Linked DNA regions of Homo sapiens: regions 1 and 2 are each linked to region 3. The links come from fine-mapping of genetic effects on gene expression. A gene starts in region 3. Each other region holds a variant in brackets. All regions are shown on one strand. Distances are from middle to middle. Region 1 overlaps GRIK4 (glutamate ionotropic receptor kainate type subunit 4). Region 2 holds the start of LOC101929208 (a long non-coding RNA gene). Region 3 holds the start of GRIK4 (glutamate ionotropic receptor kainate type subunit 4).

Evidence for each region.
Region 1: its variant is fine-mapped to the expression of GRIK4 in thyroid (GTEx, PIP above 0.99).
Region 2: its variant is fine-mapped to the expression of GRIK4 in whole blood (INTERVAL, PIP 0.97).

What each region holds. Positions count from the first base shown.
Region 1 is chr11:120,593,473-120,601,737 of GRCh38, forward strand. The region is part of intron 1 of GRIK4 (glutamate ionotropic receptor kainate type subunit 4); the gene reads left to right. Among named protein-coding and RNA genes, the nearest start is that of GRIK4, 86 kb to the left of the region's middle. The variant C/CA (reference allele first, on the strand shown) is at 3,732.
Region 2 is chr11:120,953,604-120,961,603 of GRCh38, forward strand. It overlaps GRIK4 (glutamate ionotropic receptor kainate type subunit 4), which reads left to right. Exons shown (of 21, transcript NM_014619.5): 16 at 3,177-3,350; 17 at 7,306-7,471. LOC101929208 (a long non-coding RNA gene) reads right to left here and starts at 4,436. Exons shown (of 3, transcript NR_133004.1): 1 at 4,355-4,436. RefSeq lists an enhancer at 1,897-2,397 and a silencer at 4,922-5,143. The variant G/A (reference allele first, on the strand shown) is at 4,022.
Region 3 is chr11:120,507,554-120,515,818 of GRCh38, forward strand. It overlaps GRIK4 (glutamate ionotropic receptor kainate type subunit 4), which reads left to right and starts at 4,195. Exons shown (of 21, transcript NM_014619.5): 1 at 4,195-4,334. RefSeq lists silencers at 3,806-3,885, 4,066-4,265.

The DNA.
Region 1 (8,265 bases), 86 kb after region 3:
AGGCTCTCAACACTCCATTCCTCCTGCTTCCCCCATCTCAGGTCTGTCTTTCTCGTATCCCTTTCTGTTGACTCCCCCTTTACTCCTGTCTAAATGTCGGATGTCCCAAGCCTTGCCCCCCACTTCTCTAACTGTATATTCTCTCTGAGTGAACTCACCTATTGCCACACTTTCAATACCATCTATACAGTGATGACCTCCAACTTTCTCTCCTGAGTGCTGTTCTAGCAGTTCCATCTATCTATCTACTTGACTTTTTCATTTGAATATCCTCCATATATCCTAAACATGGAAAACCACTTTATTCCTCTTCCCAAATCTGTTTCTACCTCTTTCCCCATCTCAGTAAATGGCACAATTGTCCACCAGTTTACAAGACCAAAAGAATGGGAGTCATTCCTGATCTCTCCGTTCTCTCACTCTCCACATCCCATACCCCACCAAGTCCTGCCAATTTACCTCCAGCAGGTGCCTCAAATTTATACCCTTCTCTCTCTCCACTTGCCCTGCCACCCTTCAGTCCAGGCCACCACCATCTCTCCTCTGACCTAAGACAGTAGCCTCCTAATTGGTTTTTCTCCTTCCACTTCTCTTGTTCCTTGTTCTTCACACAGCACAGCATTTTAAAAACTATGCATTTCAAATACATCATTTAAATTGTTTCATGCTACTCTTGTGCTTCAAACCTTTCAGTAGCTATTCATTACCCTTAGAATAAAATCCTGCTGGGCGCAGTGGCTCATGCCTGTAATCCCAGTATTTTGGGAGGCCAAGGCCGGCAGATTGCTTGAACCTAGGAGTTGAAGACCAGCTTGGGCAACATGGTGAGACCCCGTGTCTTAAAAAATATATATACAAAAATTAGCCAGTGGCATTTACCTGTTGTCCCAGCTACTCAGGAGGCTGAGGTGGGAGGATCGCCTGAGCCTGGGAGGTTGAGGCTGCAGTGAGCTGTGTTTGCACCGTTGCACTTCAGCCTGGGCAGCAGAGCACAACCCTGTCTAAATAAATAAATAATAAATAAATAAATAAAATCGTAACTCTTTGCCATGCCTTATAAGGCCCTTGTAATGCCGTATAGGGTATGATCTGGCCCATCTAATTCTCCAGCCTCCTCTTGCACTGTCTTCTTGATCAGTTGCCTTCCTAACAGCTGTTTCCTCCCATCTTCCATGTCAGCAGAAGCCTGATTTTGTTCAGATATAGGGTACTTTTCTTCCATGAAAGAGGTGGTGGTATTTTCAGGGAAGGTGTGCCCTCCTGTGATTCACTGCAGTTGGGCCACGGTTAATCCAATTCACTCATAGCCGTACCATGACTCCATTGCCACTGATTGGGGTAAGTGGTGGGACTGAAGAGAATGTCTGCTGGTGGCTGTGGGAAAGATGGGCTGCCCTCATACGAGAGTGACTCGTGAAGAGGAGATGCCTGCATGCGTCCTTCCTGCTTTAGGGGTGTCGGAGGGTGAGGAGCCACCCCCAGCGAGGGAGACACTGTCCACATACCGAGGAAGGCAGATGGAAGGAGCAGGCCTCTAAAGCCACAGATGAGTTTCAGGATCAACCACAAAGTTGCCATCCTCCTCTTCAAAGGGATAATGAATGCCTTTATGGTTCCAGCCACATTTAGGAAGGCCGTCTGTTGCATGTGGCTGAGCACATCCTAACCAGTATCTTTCCTCCCGCTCGCTGTGTTCCACTCTCCCTGGCCTTGCAGCCCGTGGTCGTGCTGTGCCCTCTCCTGCCTCGGGAGATGTGCACACGCCATTCCCTCTGTTTGGAGCACTCTTCGTCCTGCTTTTCACACATCCTTTAAGTTTCAGATTGTTTTCACATAAAGGTTTCTCTGCTGTATTATTTTCTTTATGTCTGCTTCTTGTTAGTTTCATCCACAGCCCCTAGCACATTTTGAAATTATTTTTTCGGTATACTTTTTTTCTTCCCCTCTAGACTGTAAGTTCCATAAAGGCAGAGACTGTATGTATTTTGCTCACCTTACAAGGTGCATGGCAGAGGGAAGGTGCTCACCACCTGTTTACTGACTGAGGGCGTGAATGGAGGAGTGGTGCTCATCTTCCTGACCTTATCCTCTGCTGCTTGATGACCTCTCACAGTTTCTACTTTAGCCACATGGAATGGTGGTTTCTAGAATGTTCTTTAGTCTCTGTCACTTTTTAGTCTTTGCATATGCATCTCAGTTTGCTGGAACAGCTCTCCTCCTTCACCCAGACACCTCCCACTCTTCTGTAGGTCTCAGCTGAGCTTCCACTTCTTCCTGGAAGCATCCCTCTGCTGACCATGTGCCCTGGGGACACTGCTCTCAGCAGGCAGAGCACCTCCCAGTCTGCACTGTAGGCCCCTGATTGCTTTTGTATTTATTATTTCTATTTTTCGAGATGGAGTCTTGCTCTGTTGCCTGGGCTGGAGTGCAGTGGCGTGATCTCAGCTCACTGCAACTTCCACCTCCCGGGTTCAAGCGATTCTTGTGCCTCACCCTCCTGAGTAGCTGGGATTACAGGCGTGCGCCACCACGGTCAGCTAATTTTTGTATTTTTAGTAGAGACGGTGTTTCATCATGTTGGCCAGGCTGATCTCGAACTCTTGACCTCAATAATCCGCCCGTCTCGGCCTCCCAGAGTGCTGGGATTACAGGCACGGGCCACTGTGCCCGACCGGGATGGCTTTTTTAAGTCACCGTATCCCTAGCATGCAGCCTGTAGTAGGTGCTCAAAAAGTATTTGTTGAATTAGTTCCTTTGATTAATATTTTTGAATGCCCACTGTGTGTCACACATTGTGTGAAGTGTTGAGGTTATAAAGATGAAAAAGAAATTGTCTCCATTCTTACATTCTAGAAAGGGAGACAGGTCTATTAACCAGTAAAAAAAATGCAACGTGATGAGTGTGGGAAAAGAGGCTGTGGGAACACCGATGAGGGAACAATGAAATCTTCCAGGGAAGTAGAAGATGGGGTGTTAGGGAGCGCTTCAGAGAGAGACTGGAGAAGGACAGAGTGGGGTTCAAGCCAGCAAAATTATTTCCAAAGGGGAAGGATGGATGTCTGTGTCTAGGTGTGTATGTCTATGCCTTTATGTCTATGTGTCTACGTTGAAGTCTATATGTAAGTCTCTATGCCTAAGCCTCTGTCTCTCTATAAAGCATATGGAGAAGGGGCCACACTGGAGAAGTAAGGGAGAGTATGTGTAGGGAAAATGAGGGCAGAGGGTCTGAGAAGGGGCTTCAGCAGTTAGACTTGTTTTTGTTTTTTTTTTTAGACAGAGTGTCACTTTGTCGCCCAGGCTGAAGTGCAGTGGCGCCATATTGGCTCACTGCAACCTCCGCCTCCTGGGTTCAAGTGATTCTCCTGCCTCAGCCTGCCGAGTGGCTGGGATTACAGGTGCCCGCCACCACACCCAGCTAATTTTTGTATTTTTAGTAGAGACAGGGTTTTACCATGTTGGCCAGGCTAGTCTTGAACTCCTGACATCAAGTGATCCATCCGCCTCGGCCTCCCAAAGTGCTGAGATTACAGGTGTGAGCCACCGCGCCTGGCTGAGATTTGTGTTCCATCCAGTTCTCCCCTCACTTGGGGCTTCTATATATGTAAGCACTGGGGGCCTCAGGACCCCTGGCTTAGTCAACGGCTGCTCCCAGAGCTGGGAACATGACAGCTTCATGCCAGGGCAGCCCCAGGTAGCTTTGTTCTTGGGCCCCTGGATGCCAGAGGCAGCTC[C/CA]ACTCACCTTGCGGGGCCGCTCCCTCTCCACCTGGGTTCCAATCTGGTTCTGCTCCTTACCTGCTGGGTGACGGGGCAAGTGCCTTCCCACCATGATGAGGAGATGATGTTTCCCGCAGAGGGTTCTGGGGAGGATGCAGTGAGATCATGTATGCAAAGCACCCCTCTTGGGGCTGCACACGGTGGGAGCTGGGCAGTTGCCAGTTCCCTCTCCTTCCTCTCCCTCCTTGGCTGACTACCCAACAGGTGAAGATCTGACCTGTTCTCTGACCGAGCCCCGGGCGCCCCCAGCTGAGCCCCGTGGCAGGCAGCAGAGTCTCAGTGTCACATAAAGGCAATTTCTCTAGCTGATTCTTTTTAAAGAACAAAAAGCAAATTGCCTCTCAGTCTTACTTGGCTGCCTCAGCCGTGCGCTTTGCCAGAGTGTTTGCATTCAGGGATCCGTGGGGGTCCTGAGGTGGTGGGCCATGCGTGCTGCCTGTTCAGTGCAGCCCCCCGCTTTGTCTGATTTCCTAATACAGTGCAGCATTCGAATTTTTCTCTAAGCATCTGAAAGCGAAAGGGAAATTGTGACTGTGGATGAGTCCCTTTTAGCGACCTCTGTGAGATCTCCCCAAAGTTGTTCTCCAGCCCAATTAGAAACCTGCCTGACTTTCAGGAGCGGGAGTGCCTGCCGTTGAAGACTCCTGTTCCGAGCCCTAATTACTGCTTGATGGAATGAATAAAGACGTCATGTTTTCTGCATTTTACTTAGAGAGTTGCTGATGCGGTGAATGTTGGATGAAACGTCTCTTTCCTCAGAGAGATTAAAAACTAAGTGCCTCAGCGACAGAGCCAAGCGGCTGTTTTAACAACAGACTTCCCCTCCTGCGCTCCCTTGGCCTCGCAGTTGGAGCTGGTCTGGGCCCCTTCTGTTCTTTCCACTCTTCTGGAATCAAGGTGGAAGATGCCTTGACCATCGAATTTGACTGATTAAAAAAGAGACACAAGCATCTGTTGAGCCCTTGCTGTGCATCCGACTTTTTCCATCCATTCTCTCATTTCTTTCTCACAGCAGCGTTATGAAACGGCTTGCTGTGCCCCTTGTGCAGATGAGGAAACTGAGGCTCACAGAGTTAGTGTCTTGCCCAAGGTCATCTGGATAGCAGGTAGCAGAACGGTGGTTTGAATTCAACCTCCAGTGCAGAGTTTGTGGTCTTTCTCCATCGGCTCCAGGGACATTTCCTGGCCTGCGTGGTGGAACCTGCCCACCCCCTGAGGAGCCAACCAGTTCTTTTCCTTGACAGAGAATGGCACGGTATAGTGGTTAACTCCCACCATATGACAAATCTCCCCAAAACTTAGTGGCTCAAGACAATGAACTTGACTATTATTGATGGCTCTGTGTTTGGCTAGATGGCTCCTTTGGTCTTGGCCAGGTTGTCTGGGGCTGCAGGAACTGGGATGGCCTCCCTCAGTATCAGCTGTGGCAAGGACCACATGGCCTCTTATCTTCCAAGAGGCTCGCCCAGGCCTGACCTCTTCCTCACACATTCTCCATGTCCATGTAGATGTAGATATCCATTCTTCCTCTTTGAAAGTAACTGAGCTGGCTTGGACCCTGTCTATCTTGCAGAAGAGGGAAGCCTGATGCCTAAGTACTTTTTACATCCTCTGTTATTTCATGTCTGTTAATGTCCGGTTGGCCAAAGGAAGTCATATGTCCAAGTCCAGACTCAAGGGATGGATAATGGACTCCTTCTCTTGATGGGAGGGGCCAAGAAGCCCCATTTGAAGGGGTGTGCCTGCAGGAACGAGGAAGGCTTTGTGGTCATTCTGCGTTACTGCAAAGGGTAACACCCACTCTTCAAAGGCCATTTCACAGCTCCTGGTCCTGTAAACTAAGGGTGTGGAGAGGGGGCTTACTGAGCTTCCACATCTGGACGGGATATCACGAGGCTGTGCCAGACAGATGCCTCATTTTGTTTGTTTGATGCGTGTGTTGCTGTTTTTTAAACACGCAGAGAATGTGAAAACACAACTTCCCTTTTGAATTGATCCTTGTTCTCACAACTAGTCATTACCTTTCATGATTGTTATTAATATTTCCCTGGACCAGCTGCTGCAGATGAACCTGGAGTGCATGTTTGGAGTTGGTGGTGGGGAAGGTCCCTGTTCTGGGCTTGAGGCTCCAGGGATGGAGGAGGGGACATTGGTGCCCCATGCCTGCCCTCTTCTCAGGCTCACAGCATGCCCTGGTTTCTCCACCTGGACTTAACAGAGTTTCCGCCGTTATCTGGGAGATGAAGACCAGAGGGTTTTAGGCCCTTTGAAGGAAGGAACGGTTCAGAAGAATGAGTCAGTGATGGAGTCTCTAGATGTCTTGCCAGCTCCATCTCTGCTACTGTATTCTCAGCCCCCTAGCCTCCCTCTTGTGCTTCCAGGGATATAGTGCCCCGTTTTCAGTGCAGAAAGTACTTTGATCAGAGGTTTGTGAAAACCAGTTTCAAGGCTGCCAGCTTTGGGTATTCCTGGGGTGTGGGCCTCAGTTCCAGGTTGCCCTGAAACTCTCCTTTCAGCAGGGAGAGAAAAGGCAGTAGGAGCTACAAACACCTTGGGCCTTGTCCCCAAGCTCAGCCTTCTTGGGTGACTCACCCGAGCAAGGAGCAAGTCAAACTCAGCACAAGGGAACCCCTGCCCCAGAGCCCGTGACATAAAGGTGAAAGAAAGGCTTTTGGTGTCTCTTGCAGCCAGAGTATGTTTGAACATTAGAGGCTGGTTTTAGGTTTGACGCTTTCTCATGCTGGCATGAGCACCTAGCATGGGGCCTGGCGCATCAGAAAAGCTCTAGAAGCGACCTTGCCATCCGCCCACTCTGCAGGTGGCCGAAGCCCTTGGGTGGAAGGTTCCAGGGAGAGTAGTGCTGGCAGCCCTGATTCAGGTGTGTTTGGGGAAAGGGAAAGGTGAGACCTTCAATGTGGGAGCCCCTAAGGCCTGCAGAAAAATGAGACTCTTAAAGCTGCTCCTCCCACAGCGGGAGGGTACCTCCACCCACCAGGCTTCCGGCTTCTCAGCGTGGCTGATTCCTGGTGCACTGTCAGCCTTTATGGGTCCCATTAGGGCAAGAGAGTAAGAGGTTTTATGGGAGTTTTTCCCCCCTCTGTCTTAAAAAAAAAGAAAACTAGAGTTTTCCTGCGAATTAAACAAATGTCAAATCAGCTTTGGCTGCCTGAATGGCAGCCTTTCAGAGGCAGTGCCTGAGGCTAACTCAGGGAAATGGGGTTCCTGCTCTCTGGGCCTCCCAGCAAAGCCCACCTGGTTTTTGTTCTGCTCTTTGAACAGAGGGCTGAGGAGGGATGCTGGTCTTTGTTTTCCTCCCACAGTCAGGACTGGAGGAGATCCTAGCCAGGAGTGCAGAGGCAGGGGTCTGGGGACCCTCTCCCCACCAGGAAGATCTTCAGGGGTTCTGGGAGTCCCTGGCATTACAGGCAGCATCACAAATATGCATGGAAAGTGAAATTGGAAGGGGTAAATCTGTAGCTTTGTTCTGATTCTCAAAGAGGTCAGTGACCTTCAAAAAGATTAAGAACTCATGAGAGGCTGGGCATGGTGGCTCATGCCTGTAATCCTAGCACTTTGGGAGGCTGAGGCAGGCAAATCACTTGAGGCCAGGAGTTTGAGACCAGCCTGGGCAACATACTGAGATCCCATCCCTACAAAAAATACAAAAAGGTGTGGTGGCATGCGCCTGTAGTTCCAGCTATTCAGGAGGCTGAGTGGGAGGATCACTTGAGCCTGGGGAGATGGAAGCTGTAGTGAGCCGGATCGTGCCACTGCACTCTAGCCTGGTGACAGAGTGAGACCTTGTCACAAACAAACAAGCAAAACTCATGAGAACTATTACAGCACCCACATTTTGGACAAGAAGAACTTGGTCCAGGGGCTGGGTGTGGTGGCTCACGTCTGTAATCCCAGCACTTTGGGAGGCCGAGGCAGGTAGATCACTTGAGGTCAGGAGTTTGAGACCAGCCTGGCCAATATGGTGAAACCTCATCTCTAGTAAAAATACAAAAATTAGCCAGGCTTTGTGGTGCACGCCTGTAATCCCAGCTACTGGGGAGGCTGAGGCAGGAGCATCACTGGAACTCGGGAGGTGGCGGTTGCAGTGAGCCGAGATTGCGCCACTGCACTCCAGCCTGGGCAACAGAGCGAGACTCCATCTCAAACGAAAACAAAAACAAACCCCAAAAGAACCTTGTCCAGGAAGGTCTACACAGGGCAAGTGACTTGATGATTCAATTCACATAGCACATTAGTGGCTGTTTGTTTAAAGATCAGGTCCCTCTGTTTAAGGCGGGGTGTGGGGGGGCGCAAAATTGAGGAGGGGAGGCTTTTTCTCATTTGCAAGCAGCTTGTCTCATAATTGACTGGTTTTTTTTTGGTTCTGTTGTTGTTGTGTGTGTGGTTTTTTTTTTTTTTTTTTTAAGTTGGAATCACTCCCAGAAGTAAAGGGGCTGAGATGAGCAAAATAAATAAGGAATAAGTAGGCTCAACG
Region 2 (8,000 bases), 450 kb after region 3:
GACCAGGGAGGGGGGAGAATAAGCCCTGCCCTATCCCCAGGAAACCAGGGGCTGCCCTGGCCCTTTGGAAAAACCTGAGGAGCAGCCTGAGGCTGTGGCCTCCCAAGACTGTGCACAGCAAAGGTAGTTTCGCTCCAGGCCAAGGCTGTTGGGCCAGCCTGAGCTGCAGGAGAGCCAGCTTAACCCTCCAGAAGTGGGATGAGCCCTGGTGGCTCCCAGGCCACTCACTCAGGTCCCTAGTGCTGCTAACCCTCCACTTACTGCAGTGGAGGCTCACAAAGGGCTGTTATGTGGGAGCAGAGAACTACTCAGGAGGAGCTTCTGGAATCTGTCCGTGGCTCTGGTTTGCAGGTGTCTCTTCAGTTGTTACCTTTGCCTCTAGGCCACAGTGGGAGGGCAGACAGTGTTAGAGTGCACATCCCATCTCTGTGGGGTGGGTGGGGTCTTCCCCTAGGGCACGTTCATTCACTGGATTGATGGGGGCACTTGGGGATGGAGCTGCCGCATGGTAAGCCCTAGGGAACCACGGGCTACCTAACCCCTGAGGGCACTTCCCAGACTGCCAGAGAAGGGTTGCATCAACCTGTCTGCACATACCTCTTCTAGTGGAGACCAAGGTCCCCAAGATCAGGAAGGTCTTTGGGGCCCACAAGATGCAGCCAAAAAAAGACAGGCCTTGCTGACAACCTGGTCATTTTCAAACGTGGCAGAGTTTGCTGCTTGGGCACCACCAACCCCTCTCGGGCCTGTAGGCATGGCCACTGTTGAGTATCTGCTGTCAGTGACGGCCTGCGAGATGGGGAGCTAGCACGCTGTCTGACACCTCCCCTCTCCACTTTGCCACACTGCTGCCATGTTAGGAGGCTGTCTCCGTGAGCCTGGTGCCACTGCTCTGTAATTCACACTTGCCCCTTGGATGTGAGCCCTTGCGTGTGGCATGCCACAACACTCAGGTCACCTCAAGGGCCCTGAAAAGTCTTGGGGTTTGGAGAGCAGATACATACAAGCCTGCTTCAGCATACCCACAGCAGCCTAGAGCTTTCAACCAGCCCTGGGGTGTTACGCTGCCCCTCCTCCCTCCCCTCCACATCCAAACACACCCCCTCCAGCATCTAGCATCACAGAAAGGTTAACAGAAAATGTGCTAAAGGGCTAACCATACGGCCTCTCTCTCTCACTACACACACACACACACACACACACACACACACACACACACACACACACAAACAATACTGGAGTCTAGGGTATTCTGTCTTAAGGTAGTGATTTTCAAACATGGTTCTATGGACTGCAAAGGCTCCTGGGAGCAACCAGAGCCTTTGGGGGTGGAATGACAAGAGGCTGGGCAGCCAGAGCCCTGGGTCCCCAACTCCTCCTCATCCAGACCAGCTCTACTTTTATTTCTTATATATTGTACTTCGGGTAAGATTTTACAGGGAAAAAAAAATGTCTGAAAACAACAGCTCTTAGGTAGCCATTCCCAAGAGAGCTGATCTTCAGAGTCCTGTAGGGAGCTTTTAGACATTTGAATTCCCAGGTCCCATGAGCTCAGAATCTCTAGGGGAAGGGCCTGAGAATCTGTATCTTTGAAGTTCTGCAGATCCCACCAATGGTCCGTAGGCTTGGGAGCCAACAAAGTGGGGCACCAGAGTGCCAGCCAGCTCCTCGGGACCCACACAGAGGGACAGAGCACATCTCACAGGTCAAAGGACCAATGCTGAGACGTTTGTGTTGTACTCAGGAAGGAGAGGCGCGGATGGAAACGGGAGGCAGCGACAGTGGGAACACTAAGTGCACATCAGGCCGAGTGCAGGACGGGAAAGAGCAGTGTGAAGATAACACCGAGCACACAGCACCCCGCCCTCCTGGGGGTGCACACCTGTGCATACAGTTTCTCTCGTCAGAGCTGGAAGGCTTTGCGTACAAGATGGGCCGGGGCTGCAAGCATCTCCCTGGCGGGCAGGGGAAGAGCAGGCATTCTGGGCATCAGAGGGGCCATTCAGAGAGACGCCAGTGGTGAGGCTGAGAGGGAAAGCAGGGGAGTGTCCCCACCTCACCCCAAGGCACAGAGCTTAGAGCAGCCCTTCTCAGCCCCATGCGTGCATTACACTCACTGGGGAGCTTTAAACAAACACTGATGTCCAGGCCCCACCTGAGCCAATGAAACCAGAATCTTTGGGAGTGGAACTCAAGCAGCAGCATTCTTTTTTTTTTTTTGAAAGGCTCTGGGGAGGTCTGAAACACAGACAGGGAGAGCCTGGCTTTAGACACCATCGAGGCCAGTGGCTCTCAGTATGGACACTGGCCCGGTGGCACCAGCATCATCTGGAAACTTGGGAATTCTTAGGCCTCACCCCAGACTTACCAGTGCAGAAGCATTGAGGCTGGGCCCAGCCATCTGTGTCAGCACACCGGCTTGGTGGTTCTGAGGTAGGCTAAGGCTGGAGGGCCACTGCTCTAGGCTGAGGGTCTTCAAACCGTGGTTCTAAGGGACACTAATATCTCTCTCATCACCCTGTCACTGGCAGTGACAGAACAAGCGGCTTCCCAGGCTGTCCACCTCTTGACACTCCTAGCCTCAGGGGCTCCACTTAATCTTTTTTTTTTTTTTTGAGACAGGGTCTCACTCTGTTTGTCCAGGCTGGAGTACAGTGGTGGGATCTTGGCTCACTGCAGCCTTTACCTCCCGGACTCAAGTGATTCTCCCACCTCATCCTCTTGAGTAGCTAGGATTACAGGCACACACCACCATACCTGGCTAATTTTTTTGTATTTTTTAGTAGAGACGGGTTTTCGCTGTGTTGCCCAGGCTGGTCTCGAATCCCTGGACTCAAGCAATCCACCCGCCTCGGCCTCCCAAAGTGCTGGGATTACAGGCATGAGCCACCGCACCTGGCCATCCTCTATTCTGTATTTTGGAGTTCCACATCAGAATTTATTGGGGGTAAAAATGTCTCTTTGATTAAAAAAAAGTTTGAGAACCATCAACCCAGTTCAACCCACTTATTTTATTTTATTTTTTTTTTGGTTGCGAAACTCCAAGTCCAGCAAAGGGAAGTGGCTTGCCCAAGGCCACAGGCCGGTCTCAGAGGTGAGACCAGCCAGGAGAGCCTGCCTGTGTCCCTTCACACCCCGCCTCTGTGGCACTAGTGTATGTTCCTTTTCTCCCACAGGTTGACGCCCTACGAGTGGTACAGCCCACACCCATGTGCCCAGGGCCGGTGCAACCTCCTGGTGAACCAGTACTCCCTGGGCAACAGCCTCTGGTTTCCGGTCGGGGGGTTCATGCAGCAAGGCTCCACCATCGCCCCTCGCGCCTTATCCACCCGCTGTGTCAGTGGCGTCTGGTAAGGCCCCAGGCAGAGGTGAACCAGGCCAGGTGGGGTGGGGACACAAAAGGGGCCCTCTGATAAGCCGGCTCTAGCTTCTAGAGCCCCAGAGCCTCTGCCTCTTACAGCAGACCCACGCAGGAAGCCGAGTGCTTTCTGCCAGCTCAGAAGCTTGGGGCAATGGATGGGGCCTGCTCTGTGCCATCTGGTCCCCTTCCCCTTACTCTCTGGGGTCTGGATGCAGAGGGGAGCCAAGGGAGGAAGGGAGAGGAGGTGACAAAACAGCCTTGATGAATTTCAGCAAAGCAATGGTAACTTCCTGACCTGAAAATGACCTGAGGTTTGAGAAGGCATATGCAGATTTATGCAAGTATAAGCCTGCTGGCAGGAAGTCCCTGCAGGAGGAAGCCAGCCTGGCTGCTACATCACATCCCCTCTACCAGCCTTCTGAGGCTTTGTGTCTCTGCCTCTGGCTCTGGGGGCTTGCTGGCCTGTTCACCTCAGCAGGTGTGGGAAAACGCAACTCTTGTCGTTCAGAGTTGAGCAAATGATTCAATGTGTGGGAAAGCTCTTTGAAAACTTGAAAGTGCTACATAAACATATGGACTGATCATTGTTATTAGACCATTATGGGGGCAAAGGAAAGACAAAACAAATGTGTGTGTGTGTGTGTGTGTGTGTGTGTGTGT[G/A]TAGCCTAGAGAGGCAAGTTTGCAGAACACAACTTTTTGATCCTCTCTTAAAAATCTGCTGTGGGTTTGGCTGTCATAGCATACAGGACTTACGACCTTGGTTCTCTCCCTTCCTTCTCAGCCTGTTTAGCCAAAGGAAAAGGAAAGGTGATGTTTCCACCCTTGAGTACTGGTGCCCAGAGTGGGTGGTCTGGACAGAATTACTGGAGGAGCCACTGGGCTGTTAGGAAGGTGAAAACGCAGCTGAGATAGCCATGCCTTCCTGTCTGGGGTTTCCATTATCCCTGATAAACAACAAATGTAGCACGATTTAAACCTGGGCGAGATGCTTGCCTGTTACCAGATAGTTTGGAGAAGTCACTGAATGGATCACCATGGAGAACAGGAGCTCAGGTCTCCAGGAAGAGGGATGGACGATCTCAGCAAGGAGAGTCACGGAAGTCCCACCCACAACATCCGGGAACCTGGGCAGAAGCCCTGGGAGAGGAGCATCGGGGGATGTCGATCTCCTTCTCCCTGGGGCTTTTCCTTCTGGAGAGTGCCTGCTCCCACAGATGGATGCAGCTAGAACCCCATTGCCCACTTTATCCGCTTGTCAGCTCTACCCTTACCCCAGGAAATCCCTCCTCCAGGACCCAGCCATCCTGCAGGTTGCCCTGCCCTGAGGGGAGGACTCAGCGCTGCTTTAAATGGCTGGCCCCAGGTGGCTTGGTCACTGTTCCAGAGCTGTGTGAGAAGGGGCTCAGCGCGAATGCAAGCCGCCGTGACAGGCCTGTGCCAGCCCCGACTCCAGGTGGTCACTGCGCTTCTCTCCCAGCACACTAACAGTTCCTAGTTCTTAAATCAGGGCCTCGGTTTGGTCCGTTCCATGGAGGAGTGGGAGGTCAGAAGACAGGGCCATCGTGGCCTACCTCGACCTCCTCACCCAGAGCACGTGATAGAAAACACCATGTCGCTGGAGAGAATGCCAGTTTGACAACTGAAAATGCCCTTTGACACAGGAGCGAGGCTCCACTGAGCCCTCCGGAAGCGGGCATCATTCCCTTTCTCAGCAGAGCCGATGGGTTTGCACTGAGCCGCTTGTGCCCTCTGACCAGTTTCCTTGTGACCAATGGCCTAAATAGCCACCTGGTGTGTAGCCAGAGTGTAGCCAACTCTGAAGTCATGTCCACACCTAGGGCTCATTAACCCCCAGCACACACCACCACAGCTAAGCAGCTGCAGAGTGCTGGCTTCCTCCTGGGGACTGCCCACCCCAGGTCTCTGTTTAGGGATGGTCATGAGAGCACCTTCCAATAGGGCAGAAGAGCTGAGGCAGGAGCAGGGAGAGCAGACCTTGGGCATGGAGGGATACCTGCTACTTACAGGTCACAGATAGGGAAGGCAGAAGGAGGCAGCCAGGTGATTTTCATCCCATATTCAGTCTGATGGTCTCTCTATACATTTCTCTATATCTCACATCCCTCTAGTCCTTTACAGATTGCTGATCACTCATGACATATTACTTCATTTTATCTCACAACTCTCCAGCAATAGGCAGAGCAGGCATGATTATCCCCATATATTTATTAGACAAGTAAATGAGCTCAGAGAAGGCGAGTGGTTTTCCCCCACATTCTCACAGTGGAACACAGCCAGAACCAAAACCCAGCTCGCTCATGGTGGTCTGCCATGTAGACATGCCCACTGAGTCAGAGGATGCCCCTGTTGCTTCACTCCTGGGGAGGCAGCCAGCAAGTGTTCTTGGTCACAATGGCAAAAGGGGCAATGGGACCTGCTGCTCTTGAAAATCTACACAGCAGTGGCAAGTTGCCAAGTTCTGTGTGTTAATCACTATGCATTCATCGTCAGTGTCTCTATGATGGATAAAGCCCCATGAACTCAGGCTCCACTGATTCAGAATTTGTGATTCTCCATCCCAAACTGTGCTTAGATCTATCTTTGAGCCCCTTGGGATTGGGATGTAGATCCATACTGTTGACCAGATGGGAGAAGGCTTGTTTAACCTACTAAAATGAACACACAGTTTTTAATGGACTTAGCATATATGCTGCCTGAGCTGCAAAATTATTCTAATTTCAAATGAGTTCTGTCTACTCAGTAAAACAATCTTCTAATTTGAAATAGCATGACCATTGTAAGAGTATTTTCTAATTCCAGCCTTTCAGCAGTTCAAAAGTGCTTTTCGCCAGGTAGTCTTTATTAAAGATGTTCTGTTGTTACAATTTACAGAACTGGTTTTAAAATACAAATTTATCAGCTGGCACAGGGGCTCACACCTATAATCCCAGTACCTGGGGAGGCTGAGGCAGGAAGACCACTTGAGCCCGGGAGTTCTAGGTTGCATTGAGCCCTGATTAAGCCACTGCATTCCAGCCTGGATGACAGAGCAAGACCCTGTCTCCAAAAAAAAAAGAATTTATCGGCCAGGTGTGGTGGCTCACGCCTGTAATCCCAGCACTTTGGGAGGCCAAGGCGGGTGGATCACAAGGTCAAGAGATAGAGACCATCCTGGCCAACACAGTGAAACCCCGTCTCTACTAAGAATACAAAAATTTGCTGGGCATGGTGGTGCATGCCTATAGTTTCAGCTACTCAGGAGGCCGAGGCAGGAGAATCACTTGAATCCACGAGGTGGAGGTTGCAGAGAGCAGAGATTGTGCCACTGCACTCCAGCCTGGCAACAGAGCAAGACTCCGTCTCAAAAAAAAACAAAGAATGTATCACTGTGTTACTTGGCAGGTTGCTTCACTTCTCTGAGCCTCAATTTCCTCACCTGTAAAATTGGGATAAGAATTTTGCTTCCGTGAGCTCTAGGGATTAAGTGAGATAGTGGATGTAGCTCGTGGTAGCTGCTCACTGCCTGGCGATGCACATTTGAAGGTTGGCTTCAGCACGAGGAGGTGAGGAAGCCCTCCTGCTCTAGCTCTGAACAGAGCCCTTGGAGCTGGCACCCGCAGCTCATTCACTAGCTCATTTCTCACAGTCTCCAAAACTGTCTCATGTGCATGGACTACACCTCTTTTGAATAATAACCCAATAATCATCTCCTTTAGGAAATAAGAAAAACAAATCAACTGTCTTCTTCCAGGCAGTGCTCACAAACGCGATTCATTTCTGTTGACATCATATGCCCTGCCTCCTTTCTCTTCCCCCACTAAGCTGAAAGCTCTTTCATAAGAAAGATGCCTGGTCTCTCCCATGTCACAGCAGGACTGGGGTCAGGGGCCAAGACTCCAGGGAGTGCCCGGGCAATGATGACTTCCTCGTCTTTTCCTACATAGGTGGGCATTCACGCTGATCATCATCTCATCCTACACGGCCAACCTGGCAGCCTTCCTGACCGTGCAGCGCATGGATGTGCCCATTGAGTCAGTGGATGACCTGGCTGACCAGACCGCCATTGAATATGGCACAATTCACGGAGGCTCCAGCATGACCTTCTTCCAAGTAAACCCCATTTGGTTGCTCACCAGCATCGGGAATTGGGCAGAATAAAGTTGAGATGTTTCTCTGCTGGAGATAAAAACATCTCTCCGCATCTCATTATCTCTTTTGAACATATAGTTTGGAGGTCCACATGGGGCTCATTTATCTGCTGCTCCACAAAATACTCCTGGAATGAGGTCCCAAAAGAACTTTGCGTTAATATCAGCCGGTGCCAGAGTGGTGGTACTTGAGATGATTTTAGGTCTGATGTGGTGGAACTGTTTTTTAGTTGCCATAGTTTCATGTTTATATTAATGGCCATTAGAAAAAAAGTATATATATGCAGTGAATCAAACCTGTTGTTTTATTTATATTACTGCATAGAATGGGGTTAATGCATACATTTACATTTTTAAAGTGATTTAAATCGTATAGGTAGTATTTAGACAGAGCAAGATTCATACATGAATGACTGAAGTTTGAGGAACACCAGCTTAAGACGAACTGGCTTCACTGATTCCAGACTTGATAGGTATCAGATAGGGACCCT
Region 3 (8,265 bases):
TTACCAAGGGCACAGTTTCATATTTGCCAGTTAGGATTTCATCTGACTCATCTGGACAAATGACAGGAGCAAATCCGATTTGCCAGAACTGTAGACCTCATTAACCCCTTCTCTCTATTGGTTTATCCATTCAACACATTTACTAAGAATCTCCTATGCCAAGCACTGTGTGGTTAATAGATTTTTTTTTTTTTTTTTTTGAGCTGGAGTTTCATTCTTGTTGCCCAGGCTGGAGTGCAATGGCACGATCTCAGCAACCTCTGCCTCCCCAGTTCAAGTGATTCTCCTGCCTCGGCCTCCTGAGTAGCTGGGACTACAGGTCCCATGCCACCACGCCCGGATAAGTTTGTATTTTTAGTAGAGACAGGGTTTCTCCATGTTGGCCAGGCTGGTCTCAAACTCTGACCTCAGGTGATCCACCCGCCTCGGCCTCCCAAAGTGCTGAGATTACAGGTGTGAGCCACTGTGCCCGGCCAGAGATTTTTTAAAAAGCCTATAGTCTAATTATGAACTTGAGATGAACCTTCAAGGGACCTTTGGAAAAGAAATGGTAGGTAAATTTAAGATCAAATATCTGATTTGCGGATATACCTGAGGCAAATACAAAGAAGGGAGAAGCTAAAATATAAATCCAGGAGAACAAGCTCACAGTCTATTAGTGAGAGCAGACGTGAAACAAGTAAGTGACCATAAACTCTAACAAGCACAAGAGAGATCCCGAGAAGGGAGTAATTACTTCTGTTGGGAAGGGACTAGATAGCCAGGTATGATAAACTTCTAGTAGGAGAGGTTCCCAAACAGAATTCTGAGCGGTTAATAGGAACTTGTGTATCAGTGTGTATGTGGGAGGTAGGGTGGGGACTCTGGGCAGAATTCAGTGTGTTAAAGGCACAGAGGTATGAAATGGGATGAGCAGAGAACTCAGTGCTGCTTGGTACTGACTGAAGGTGAGATGGACAGAAATGGATGATGGGTGAGGTGGGGAAGTAAGCAGGGAACTTGTATGCTGTGCTAAGAAGTTTTGGACTCGAGGCTGGGTGCGGTGGTGCACGCCTGTAATCCCAGCACTTTGGGAGGCCGAGGCGGGCAGATCACGAGGTCAAGAGTTGGAGACCAGCCTGGCCAACATGGTGAAACCCCATCTCTACTAAAAATACAAAGGTTAGCCGGGCGTGGTGGCGGGTGCCTGTAGTCCCAGATACTCAGGAGGCTGAGGCAGGAGAATCGCTTGAACCCGGGAGGCAGAGGTTGCAGTGAGCCGAGATTCCGCCACTGTACTCCACTCCAGCCTGGTGACAGAGGAGTGACTCCGTCTTAAAAAAAAAAAAGTTTTGGACTCAATATGAGGTCATGAAGGGGTTTTCAGCAAGGGTGTAAAGTGGTGAAGCTTGTTTTAGAGACATCACTCTGGCAGCCATTTGTAGACATATTGGAGGGAGCCAATTTAAAGGCAGGGAGATGAGCTAGAGGGCCGCTGCAATAGTTTCTAAGACATGGTGACATGATATGATATGTGCCACTCAGCAAGGTGACAACAAGTCACCTGCTCACCGTGTGCCTCAGCTGGCCCCATTTATGCAGAGGGATCATTATGAATGTGTGATGAACCTTCAAAGGGACCTTCGGAAAAGACATGGCAGGTACATTTAAGATCAAATATTCTTCTTAGTGGATATACCAGAGGCAGATAGATGGAAGAAATTAAAGATAAATCCAAGAGAACAAACTCCTTCCTGTGCGCTCCGACCACCATGGCGCCCAAGCACAATGAATCCTATCCGTCCTGCACAGCATAGCAGCTGGCTGTGAGGGATGTTTCAGATGAGAGGTTCTAGAGGTGGGAGCCCCATTTCCCAACCCTTCTGTTTTTTCATTCAAGGCAGCAGCCTCAGAGTAGATCAGCGGGGCCAGCCTCGTGGCCCTCTGACATTCTCCCCCTGTGGCTTCCAAAAAAGATCTGGACTGACCTTCCCACCCCTGGAGCTGAGCTTGAGAAGTCAGCTTGCCTGGAATTGAATTTTTTCAGTAGTAAAAAAGGTGGAGAGCAAGTAGTAAGTATCCCAAAGAACTCAACATCTTGCAGCAAGGGGAGACAGGAGAGTGGGTGGGGGCAACCAGGCTGAGGCTAACAGCAGACTTCTGTACCGGCAGACTTCGCTGACATTGTTGTCCACCCTGTGACTGGTAGGGACTCCCTGCTTCTAGGGGCAGAGGCCTTAAGAAAGGAAAAGAAAGTCAGAACCATTCTTGCAAGAAGGGGAGAAACCAGGGCCCTCAGGAGGCCACAGCCAAGACTATCTCCAGAGCCATCAGCAATCTCTCTGACCTGCCAAAAGCTCCTCCCCGCTTCCCTGGTTAATAGGATGAGATCACCAGGCAAAAGAATATGATGAAGCATTTCACTTATATAGTATTTTTCTTTCCAAACACTTAATAAGCCTCTCTGGTCTCGCTGATCTTGCATTCTTCCCGTGAAAGGGGCCAGGGATCCATGCTTGGCATTTCAGAGTTTGCGCGGCTTGAGAGATCATCTAGTCTGCTTCCCTCACTTTTAGAGTTATGGGAACTGAAGTCCAGGGAAGTGAAATCGCTTGCTGGGATCACAGGGATGCCTCTCCCTCCTCCCAGCCCCGTACACTTTCTGCTAGGCTTATGCTGCTGTTCCGTCCATTTTGCACAAGAGAGGGGGTTCCAGAGTGGGGGAATAGAGTTGGAATTAGAAATTAGTTTTGTGTCACTGGCTTACAGGTGCTCTTAAACCTTAACAGGTTTAACATCCTCTGTAAAATGGGACTAGTGTCACCTCAACACCTACCTTGCAAAGTTGATTATTGGGAATCACACTTGTGTAAGCGGTATAGTCTTGGCAAACAGTAGGTGCTAAATAATGTCTGGCTGGAGGAATGGAGCCCTGTTCGCATATGGCATTCATCCAGCCAGTGTGTGGAGCTGGGGGAGGGATAGGCACGACTCCTGAAGCAGGAGGCCCAGTACGCGCCCAGGCTAGCCAGCCAGCCCTCCCCGGGGAATGCAACGTCCAGAACAGTCTATAGTCCCGATAGTATGCCTCATGCGTGAGACCTGACCAAGGACGTCTGTGAACAAACCCTTCACAGAGAGCTTAATGAGATTGTGGGAGTGCTGGTGGTTGGGTGTGGGGATACAGGCCATTGAAGGTGAGAGGGCCGGTGTGATCAGTTTGGTGGTCTGCCCAAGACAGAGACTCTGCGGGTTGGATAAGAGGGAGCTAATAGGTTTGAGGGGGTCACGTGTCCCTTGCCCTCCCTCCTATTCCCCCAGGACTCCCTCTTCACCCAGCCTCCTCCTAAGGGCAACTCTGTTGTATTAGGATGAACCACACGGTGTACTGAAATGAACCGCGCGTCAGAAAGCGGGGTTGCCTCCTGGGTCCTGCCACTTGCTCCCCGTGTGTTCTTGGCCTGGTCCCTTCACCTCTCCTAGCCTCAGGATCTTCATGCGTAACATGAGATCCTCCCAAGATGTTGGTATGTATACAACAGTGCTCTGGAATGACTCCATGCAAGCTGTTGCTCTTCAGTCTCCTGAACAAGGTGCTCTTGTCTCGTCCCATGAAACCTCCACCTCTCCATCTTCCGCACCACTGAGGCCGCAGTCTCTTCTAACGGGGCACGCTCGTCCCCCGCGCTGTTTCCCGAATGCCACCAGGGGGCGCCCCTTGCTCGCTGAAGCCGCCGGGCTAATAACTCCTCGGGGCCGGGGCGGGCTGCCCCTTTGCGCAGGGCGGTGGAGTGTGCGGGCTGCGCCGGGTTCCCCACCTGAGGTCCGTACCTCGCAGAGCCCGCTTGGCCGCGCGCCCCTAGCCTCTGCCGGGCGCCGCTCCCCAGCCGGGCGCCTCTCGCTCGGCCCCGGGCCCCCGGGCAGCCGCAAGTTTGCCCCCGGCCGCGCGGACCCGCGCCCGCCCTGCCCGCAGCAGCCCCCGCCGTTCCCGCCGCCCCCGCCGCCCCCGCGCCTGGGCTCCCGGGCGACGCTCCGAGGGGCGCTGGGGGGCGCGTGCAGCTGCCCGCGGGGCTCCGGCCCGGCCCCGAAGGGGCGCCCCCCCGGCCGGCCGTGCGCGGGGCCGCAGCAGTTCCCCAGCTGCCCGCCGGGCGGCGCCCCGCGCCTCGCTGCGCTCCTCCCGCGCTCCCCGCGCCGGGCTCGCTCGCAGCCGGACACAGACTGCCTTCAGCTGCGGGCGGATCGGGCTGGAGCCGCCACGGCTGCTGCGGAAGAGGAAAAACGGCCAACAGCAGCCCCGCGGCCGGCCCGGCAGCGCCCGGCCCCCGGCTCAGCCCCCGGAGTGCGGAGCCGACCAGGTAAGGGCAGCGGCCCCCCGCGGCGCCCCCGGCCCGCTCCCTGCGCTGCCCCCGCGCCCCCGAGTCCCCTCCGCGCTGGCCCTTCCCGCACCCCGACTTCTGACGTCTCCGCCGCTCCTGCCCTCGGGGGCCGCGGCCCCGCACCCCTGCCCCGGCCCCCGCCCCCGCGCCCTCCTCCCCGCTCCCGCCTCCCGCCAGCCCGGTCCCTGGCACTTCGGTCCCTGCGTCTCCAGATTCGCCGCCGAACCCCCCACCGCTCTGCTCCCGTAGTTCCTCCAGTCTTCACCCCGGTCCGTCTCCCTCCCTCCGCATCCCTTCCCCGGGCTCGCGGTCCTCCCGCTCTGGTCCTCCCCCTCCCCGTGCAACTCCCAGCCCTGCCTCTGTCCCCTGCAGGGATGACAGCCCCTTCCCAGCCTGGCGCGTCTCCCCTACACCTCGTCACCCTCCGCTTCTCCCAGCGCCTCTGTTCCCCGGCTGCAGCCCCCCATCCCGGCTCAGCCTGGCATCCCACCAAGCCCCCTCCCCCTTTCCTCACTGCCATCTGCCTCGACTGCCCCCTGCCCCTGCACTGGACTCGGGCCACCACCACACCCCCCCACCCTGCACACCGCCTTGCTTGGGGGAACCAGCGTCCTATCAGAAATGATCCTCTTTCCCGGGGAGAATGGGGCTCCCACCCATCCCACCCTAGTTCATCCGAGTGGGAAGTGAGGGAGAAACTCTAGAGACCTGCAATGGGCGCGTGATGGGGGAGGGGGCTGGGGCGGAGGGGGAGGGGAGCTGATTTAGATTCTCTTCAGTGAGGACTGGCAGAGCTGTGCGCTCCGACCTGGCTGGGGTGGAGGGCGTGCAGGCGACAGCTGGGACAGGGGGTTCAAGGCACTGAGAGCACCTGTGTCTCTTTCCCTGGCTCCCTTGAGCTGAGCAAAGTGAGGGGAGGAGTTGGAGCCTGGGGAGAGTTGGCTGAGGGCCTTGGGGTGGTGGAGGAGGCGGCCGAGGGGGCTGGGCCCCGGGCGCCTCTGGCCCGTCTGCCTGGCAGTGGTGGGGCAATGCGGGCCGAGCCACTCCCGGGCTGGACCTTGGGCTGCGTGGCTCTTGGCATCTGTACTTGATGCTGCCATCTTCCTCTTGGTGCTGTTGTCTGGTGATGCCACGCGGTGCCACCTCCCTGCCTCCCTCCAGTGGCTCTCCTGGGCATGTCTCCCAAGGGTCTGGGTTGTCTGGGAAGAGGAGGGGAGCTCTGAGCACAGCTGGGCCCTTTTGCCAGGCAGTGGGCAGCTGTCAAGACCAGGCCAAGAGGTCTGAGGGCTGGTCAGGAGGACTGAGCCCTGCCAGGAACAAAGAACTACCTTCACTTTCACTCCCTATGGGTCACCTGGTTGGTAGTGACACTTCTAGGAGCACCGGGAAACTGCGGGCGTGGTATCTCCGGGGAGAGAGGCCGCCTGGGTTGGTAGTGGGCATCTGAGAGACAAATCCGGTCCTGCCTGACTCCCTGACTGTCTGTGCTCGCGTGGTCAGGGGCGAGGGGCTTGTCGAGGTCCACTGTGTTCCGGTCCCACCAGGGATGGCAGCCCCTGGAATTCCACTGGGCGTCATCATGCTGGCTTTATTTGCTGAAGCTGCAGCTCAGGCTTCATCATTAATCAGGTTTATTATTTTTCTCACTGGCCAGATGTGTTCCTCAAGGTCACGACCCTTCGGAGAGTTAATCTAATATGCACACATTACAGTGTCTGGGTTTGTTTAATTTTCCATATTTTGTTCATTCCTTGTGGCCCGGGCTTGCCCACCAGCCTCCCGCCTGCCTCACCAGCTCCACCCCTCTGTCCTCCTCTGGACCTGCCACCTGAAACCCAGAGGCAGCACTGGTCCCTCCGGGTGGGGAAGAGGTGGATGCTCGGGAGGGGAGGTTGAGAGGGGATCTTGGTTTTCTGTGTTTTTCCCATCCCCCTACCTGGGCATCTTGATCGGTGGCTGCTGTCTTCCCCAGCAATGAAAATTCTTCCGAGAGCCTGGGTCGGCTTCGTGGTCTGATTTCCACTTTGGTTTTCCCTTAGGATGGAGAGGGAACTTTAGTACCGGGAGAGAGGCAGAGACTCTAGGAGAAAGTCCCAGCTGCAGGGAGTCAGGGCATCCAGGAGAGAGGAGCTCAGCTGCTTCTGAGGTGGTTCTCAGCCATCCAGAGATGGAAGGGAGGACAGGGGGACCGGCCCTGGGTTGGGGGAGAGACTGCTCAGAAGGCAAGAGAAGCAGCGAGGCGGAAGCTGGCCTTTGTGTGGCTGGCGAGGGTGGGCAGCGCCAAGCGTGTGTGGGAAGGATGCATCTCTTGGTGCTTCTGCATAGTACTAATCCCTTATGTGTGTATGGGGTTCTGCAGCATTCCAGATGCCTCTCAGAACAATTACTTCATTTGATCTCTACTACAGCCCTGCAAGCATCTGATCGCTCCTTACAGACAGCCTTATAAGGAGGCATTCATGACCCAACAGAAACTGAGGCTCAGAGAGGCTGGATGCCTCATCCAAGGCTCCACAGCTGGGTCCCAGGCCCCTGGACGCTCAGTCCAGTGCTGTTGGGCTCGTTGCTGTTGCTTTTTAAGGTCTCAGCTGTTTGGTTCTCAGAAAGCCCACCCTTGGTCCTGCCTGTTCCTCAGTTCATCCCCTTCGCCCTCTCCAGTGATGGCTCACCGTTTTCACCCCCACCCCAGGCCTGGTGGAGTCTTTGCTCTGTAGTCTCCTCAGCCTTAGACTGGCTGCCTGGGTGTCCCGCCACTCCCTAGACCCAACCAACCACCCCCTACCCCAAGTGGGCACTGCCTCTTGCCTCCTCCTTGTGGAAAGAACGGCTGGGTTCCCCCAGGCATGCAGCCGGGGTGCCTGGGGCACCCTCCTTCCCTCTCTCTGGTGCCTTAGGCCTCAGCCCACTCAGTTCTTCTGGGCACTTCGAGTGTCCACTCCGACCTTTGCTCTCCCACTGCCGTGGTCCCTACTTGGGCCTTTGGCTGTTCACCCTGAGTTACGGTCCTGAAAGCTTCCTTGTTGGGCCTCCAGCCTCAGTTTCCAGCCATCCTGCCGCTGTGCCTGTCTTCTTACAGAGGGTAACGCTTCTCACAGGGGACCCTGTCTCAGCAGCCGTCAGTGGCAGTGCCTTCCAAGATGCCTTGCAGGTGAAGGCCCTCTGCACGCTGACCCCAACTTTATGTCACAACGTGGTGTCTGGCATGATCTTGTCCCCCCTCCCCTGGCCACCCAGCCCTGGCACTGTGTGTCCTCACCCTGGCCCTTTGCATTTCCTCCTCTTTTCCTCCCATCCATATATTGCCCAGCCTTCAAGGTGCTGCTGGAAGAGGAACCAGTTCCAGCTACCAAGTATCAGGCAGACCTGGGTTCCTGTCCTCACATCACTCCCTGCATGACCTCGGACAAGTTGCCTCACCTCTCTGAGCCTCACTGCCCTCACCTGTAAAATGGGGACTCTGAGCCTCACTGGCCTCACCTGTAAAATGGGGATAAATCTCACCTGCTTCAGAGGGTTAGCAGCATGGAATGTGAGTGGGAGTGTGACTCGTCCAGTGTGAAGGGCACCTGCATGGGTATGGAGGGCACATTCTCTGAGTGGCCGCCTTCTGCTCTCCCTCTGTATGGGCTGGCTGAGCCCCCTGCTCCTACCTGGTATTGGTAATCGTCTGTCCGTTTGTCTCCCCACCCAGAGGGCAGATTCCTGGAGGAGCAAGGCCTTTGCCTGACACCTTTTCACATTCTCTGACTCCCAGCAGAGCGAGGCTGTTCTTCAACATCCTGTAAATCGGCCCTCTTCATAGTAAGGACATAAGATATAGTTGTTGCTTGATTATAACGTTCTGTTACATAAAATAGGGTATGCCTTACATTTAGTAAATCCAGTATGAACAAAAAACTTATGCCACAGT